Regions from separate parts of the Homo sapiens genome. Here region 1 is linked to region 2. The links come from fine-mapping of genetic effects on gene expression. A gene starts in region 2. The other region holds a variant in brackets. All regions are shown on one strand. Distances are from middle to middle. Region 1 overlaps TTC39B (tetratricopeptide repeat domain 39B). Region 2 holds the start of PSIP1 (PC4 and SRSF1 interacting protein 1).

Region 1 (2,914 bases), 210 kb after region 2:
CCTGTACCTGGATACCCACTTCCTTCCCTTCAAGTCTGGGTAACACATATGCTTCTGCAGACAAGTATCAGTTCTTCCTGTGCTAGCTGCTTGCCTTCTTATCTCAGTTTCCTGCCCATGGGTGCTGTTACCAGTCATTTAGTGTGAATCTGATACTGTGAGTTCAGTGAAGCTCAGAGTTTCCATCTAGCCATCTGTTGACAGCCGACCAATCTCCAGTCTTGGATGCCCCAGTAGCATCTCAGGCGGAGTCTCCTGAAGTTACTTTGTATTCACTTCCCAAAGATGAGTACCTGGGGACTCCTGTGGGTGCTTTTGAGGCTTCCTGGGGGAGAGATTTTCCTTTTTTGAGCCTCCCATTGGCCACCACCTTAGTCAGCACTCTCCTTTTCTCCCCCTGTGCTTCGTGGATCTGTGCTGCCTCCTGATGCACCAAGTCCGTTTATACCCAGAGCCACCGCGGCCAGTTGCTGTATTGGTGATGTCATCACACCTCTCTAAAGGGACTTCTGAAGTGGGGAGTGCCTGGCAGTTCCTAATGCCATCATGCATCTTCAGCTCTTTATTTAAAGACTAGGTGTGTAGTAAATGCTTTTTGTTGTGATCTGTGGATGTGTCCCCTTGGTACTGCTGATATTATGCTGTCATATACATAGGGCCTACGTATTTTAAAATATTTTGGTGAAATGATACATTGTATGTTTGTTGGATCTGAAGGTAACTAGTGAGTGACAATTTTCAGTCTGACTTAATGTGTTGAGTATTGTGTTAGGTGCTGGACAAGCAAATGCAGCTCCTGCCTCAGGTTATGGTCTAGTGGAGAGTGGGGACATGTGTGTTCTGAGAACCACCTGGTGGAGGAGGGATGCCAGGGTACTTTGTGAGCACAGAGGAGGGCACCTCTCCTGGGAGAGAGGGTAGTCAGGAATGATTTCCTGGAGGAGGCCATTTCTTAGACATTCTGAGTCAAGAAGAATGAGTAGGGGTTAGCCATGGAGAAGTGATGTGGGGAAGGGGGAGCTCTTGAAGTGTCTTCCAGGAGAGGGAATAGCGGGATAAGGTGCAGAGGTGAGGAAGATCCTGTGGTGCTCTGGACAGGTGGAGTGTCAGGAATCAAGGCTGGAAGGGTACTTTGTTAGTTCTCCAGAGAAATGGGACATAATATATAGATAGATGAGAGGGGATTTATTATGGGAGTTGTCTCACATGATTATTGATATGGTTTGGCTGTGTTCCCACCCACATCTCATCTTGAGTCATAGCTCACATAATCCCCACGTGTCATGGGTGGGACCCAGTAGGAGGTAATTGAATCATGGGGGTGGGTTTTCCCATGCTCTTCTTGTGACAGTGAATAAGTCTCATGGGATCTGATGTTTTCATAAAGGGCAGTTTCCCCGCACACACTCTCTTGCCTGCTGCCATGTAAGATGTGCCTTTGCTCCTCCTTCATCTTTCACCATGATTTTGAGGCTTTCCCAGCCGTGTGGAAATGTGAGTCCATTAAACCTCTTTTTCTTTATAAATTATGCAGTCTTGGGTATTTCTTCACAGCAGTATGAAAATGGACTAATACAATTATGGAGCGTGAGAAGCCCTACCATATGCTGTCTGCAAGCTGGAGAGCTGCAGAGGCTGGTAGCGTGGCTCAGTCCAAGCACAGAGGCCTCAAAACCATGGAAGCTGATGGTATAACTCAGT[C/T]TGAGGATGAAGGCTTCAGAACCTGGGGGACTACAGGTGCAAGTTCTGGAGACCGAATGCTGGAGAACCTTGAGTTCTGATGTCCAAGAGAAGGAGAAAAAGGACTTCCCAGCTCCAGAAGAGGGAAAAAGCAAATTTGGCTTTCCTCTGTCTTCTTGTTCTATCTGGGTCCTCTGCTGAGTGGATGGTACCCAAAACTTTGGGTGAGGGTAGGTCTTCCTTACCCTGTTCATGGATTCAAATGCCAGTCTCTTCTGGAAACACTCTCCCAGACATACCCATAAATAAAATCTTTACCTGTTCTCTCTATCTGGGTATCCCTTAATCCAGTCAACTTGACACCTAAAATTAACCATCACAGGTAAGAAGGGCCGTTCAGAGACTTTCATGTCAGATTGTGGAGATCATGGTGTGCATCTGCGGGTTTCAGTGAGGAGTGGTGGGGAGCAAGCAGTATTTTAGGTGGCTCCCTGGCAAGGCGTGGAGGCTGATTGGAGGTAGACAAGCCCAGAGTGACGGAGGCTGGTGTTTTGTTTTGTTTGTTGAATGATTATTGGGACTCACTGACGACCCAAGGGTACCTAATAATTAAGGCAACATGATGGGTAAGATATGGTGTGGATCCCTCTGAAAAAGGCAGTTAGAAATATGGACACAGACAGCTGTAACCTGGAGTGCAGGGTAGAGTCTAGAGAGGGTTCAAGTGTCCTGTGCTCCAAGGAGAAGAGGGCTGTCACAGGGTGGTCCACCTGGACATTCTCTCTCCTGCCTGCTGCCCACCCCACCTGCTGACTTGTTTCCAGACCAAGTCTTTACTGACTAGCTGTGTGACTTAGAGCAAGTCCCTTAATGTTTTTGAGCCTTGTTTTCCTCATAGGCGACACGAAGGAGTTGAAACTGATGATCTGTCTGTAAAAGTTCCTTTGAGTTTTTGACATGTGTCTTCTAGAAGGTGACATTCGACCTGGGCTTCATGAGGTGGAATTTCAGCAGGCAGCAAGGGAGGAGATCACCCCTCATTCCTTCAGGCAGAGGGAACAGCAGGGGAACTGCGCTCCTCAGGCGTGGTGAAGTAGGCTGGAGGCCATGTGGTTGGAGCACAGTATATGCCCCCTTTAAGTGATTAATGCAGGAGAGCTGCTGTGAGTGTGTTCCAGCCAGATTGATCAGAATCTGGCCTTGAATGCTTAGCTACCGAGTTTGGCTTTTCTTT
Region 2 (2,865 bases):
AACACCTGACAATCATTCCTTTGTGTAATTACTTAGTTGTGCTCTTCCTTCCCTTTTCTTAGTCACCATTCTCACTGAGAAATGCGTCATTTCATGAGTACTCCAGTTACCCCCAGCCTCTTTCTACTAACATCTACCTTGAAACATCAAGAACTGGTTAAATAATCATTTTTACCCCCTTCTTGCTGAGCAACCTATAGTAGCTTCCTACTACACACATTAAATTCATATTCAGAATGAGAAGCTTCAAGACATTTCACCAACCCTTCCTTCTCCTCTGCCAATTTCTCTTTTTGCTCCACTTGGAACTCTCTGCATATTGCCCAGGTATACTTAGTTTCTCGAAACTCCTTACAGGACATTTTACTTTGGGACTGTCTTCTTTCATTCCTTTTTAAAGACATGCTGTATCGCTTTCAAAAAATTCTCAATTTTTACCAATTCAAAAAAAATTTCCTAATTCATTTCCAGTTGAGTCCCGTATTTAAAACAGTATTATCTAGGTGCTAATATATGTCTTATTATTCTTATTTTTATATGTCTTAACATTCTTTTTAAAAATATTTTCAGCCTCTCTAAAGGATCAAAAAATTAACCTTTAAAATCCCTTGAAGAGCATTTTAAGAGAGAAAATATTTGAGGTTTAGTAACACTTACACATTGTACCACCTACCAGCTCCTATTCTACTAGGGAAATAAAATTTAGATGCAGCTAAAATTTAGTTAGGGCCCAAACTCACATCCTATCTAAAAGGTTTCTGTTTTCCTGTCATTGTTTTCTACCCTTCGCATTTTGCATTCAGTAGGGTTGCATTTTTCTTAATAGTTCTTGGTGATGCAAATGCAAAAGAAATGAAATAGGGCTCTCTCATACTACAATTTCAAGGAAAAGGAGACTACGAGGCCCATTCAGCGAGGTGCAAGAGGCCTAGATGCAGCACACCCTGCAACCGCCGCATGCTCCAATTTCATCTTAGGGTTTTCGTACAGCTCCTCTTTTTTGGATGATGCAAACCGCGCAAAAGCAGCATTCAAACCTCCCCACCCTGGAAACGATACAAGAACATGAATCTTTACTGCCACTTTCTCCCTAACACGCAGCCAAGGGAGAGAGGCCCGGATACCCGCCCCCAAAACCGCGTCCACAACAATCATTTCCTCCCTCCCCGCCTTTTACATACAGTACACATACAAATACACACACGCAGAGAAGCCAGCAGGGGCGGGCCGGGCCCGACCACTCCGCAAACCGCAGGGGGAACTTGCGGCAGGCCGAGCTATTTTCGCCCAGTCCTTTCTTCTTCGCTTGCGTCTTCCTCTCCATCTGCATGCACCTGTTACATGAAAGCGAACTTGGGGACGTAGGGTTTCCAGAAAATCCGCTTCGGAGCCACACAGCTTCGCCGGGTGCTGCAACATCCCCCCTCTCTCGGTAAACAGTTGGTCGCGCCCCAGTGCTAGCGGGCGCCGAGCGGGAGCCGCGCGGGAGCAGCGCAGCTACGGCGGCGGCAGCGGCGGCGCGGTTGCGATTCCGAGCCGTTGAGACGCCTCTGCGGCAGCTGGTGGCGCAGGTGGCTTGCGTGGACGCGGGTAGAGGCGACCGGCCAGCAACCGCAGCGTCGGCGCCCGCGGCCCCGGCAGGTGAGCGGGCGACGGGGACTCGCCCCGCCCCCCCCTCGGTGGCGTCGCTCCTGGCTGTAGCGGGGAAGTGGACGCGGCCCGCCCGGGAGCCGAGGGGGCCGAGGCTGCAGCCGCTGGGCAGCAGGTTGCGGGGGAGGCCTTGCGTGGGCGGAAGGGGGCCGCTCGCTTCTCGGAATCCCTGCCTTTTTCTCTCCCATGCACCCCCTCCCTTTTGGGGCTTAAGCTCGGTGGAAAAAGCCCGGAGAAAGATGGGGCGGGCAGACGGGCGATTTCTGGCCGGGCAGCATCCCTGCTTCAGGTGGTGGCGTCTCTTCGGTGGCGGGGTGGAGGACCTGCTCCAGCGCGGAGGCAGCGCACTGGCGGGGGAGGAGCGGGAGGCGGCCGTCCCCTCGCTCTCCCACCCCCACCCGCCGGTTCCCCTCCCCCTCCCCTTGCGGCCCCTCCCTTCGGGGTTCTTCGCTTTAACCGCCCTCGGTGCTCTCCCTAGCAGGCGCGTCGGGACGCCCCGAGGCATCCTCCCCCGCCCGCGGGCCCGGTAGCTGGGCCCGCGTCCGCCGCCCGCATCCCCGCGCCGCCGCATCTCCTCGCCGCCTCCCGGGCTTCGGACCCCCGGTCTCGCCCCCGAAACATGACTCGCGATTTCAAACCTGGAGACCTCATCTTCGCCAAGATGAAAGGTTATCCCCATTGGCCAGCTCGAGTAAGTGATTTGTAGCCCTCGCGCTTAGCAGTGCTACCCTCCTCTCCAGAGGCCTGCTGCCCACCGTGTCTCTTTATTTTTTCTTCTGTCCTTTCTCTCCCTCGCTTTAGTCTCATTTGTAACCTGACCTTTCATTTTAGTTTTTTGCCCAATAATCTCCCGTGTAATTATGAAAATCCAGACGTTTCTACATACCTGTGTATTTCCCTATGGTTTATTGGCAGACTTGGACAGATTTTCTTCCTAGGAAATATTTAAATGCGTTGCTAGTTAATATTCCATTGTAGGTGAAATAATGAAGAGTGAATTTTTGTTTAAAAATTAGTGAAACATTGACATTTCCATAGTTTTGGATCAAGTACAAAATATCAATGGAATTTGTGCAGATTACACACAAACACTTGGATGTCAGAGAAGTGCGTATGTGATTAAATTGGATTTACAGGGTTTTAAAAAAAATACCTTGTACTTGATGAGGCCTTCTGGATTTGCTTGTTTAATACAGATTCAGGACTGGATATTCT

The links.
Region 1: its variant is fine-mapped to the expression of PSIP1 in cerebellum (GTEx, PIP 0.96).

Annotation. Positions count from the first base shown.
Region 1 is chr9:15,297,013-15,299,926 of GRCh38, reverse strand. The region is part of intron 1 of TTC39B (tetratricopeptide repeat domain 39B); the gene reads left to right. Among named protein-coding and RNA genes, the nearest start is that of TTC39B, 8.7 kb to the left of the region's middle. The variant C/T (reference allele first, on the strand shown) is at 1,702.
Region 2 is chr9:15,509,593-15,512,457 of GRCh38, reverse strand. PSIP1 (PC4 and SRSF1 interacting protein 1) reads left to right here and starts at 1,488. Exons shown (of 16, transcript NM_033222.5): 1 at 1,488-1,641; 2 at 2,129-2,341. The coding sequence starts at 2,270. RefSeq lists enhancers at 469-1,421, 1,422-2,375 and silencers at 1,503-1,582, 1,603-1,812, 1,823-1,882, 2,013-2,062, 2,163-2,362.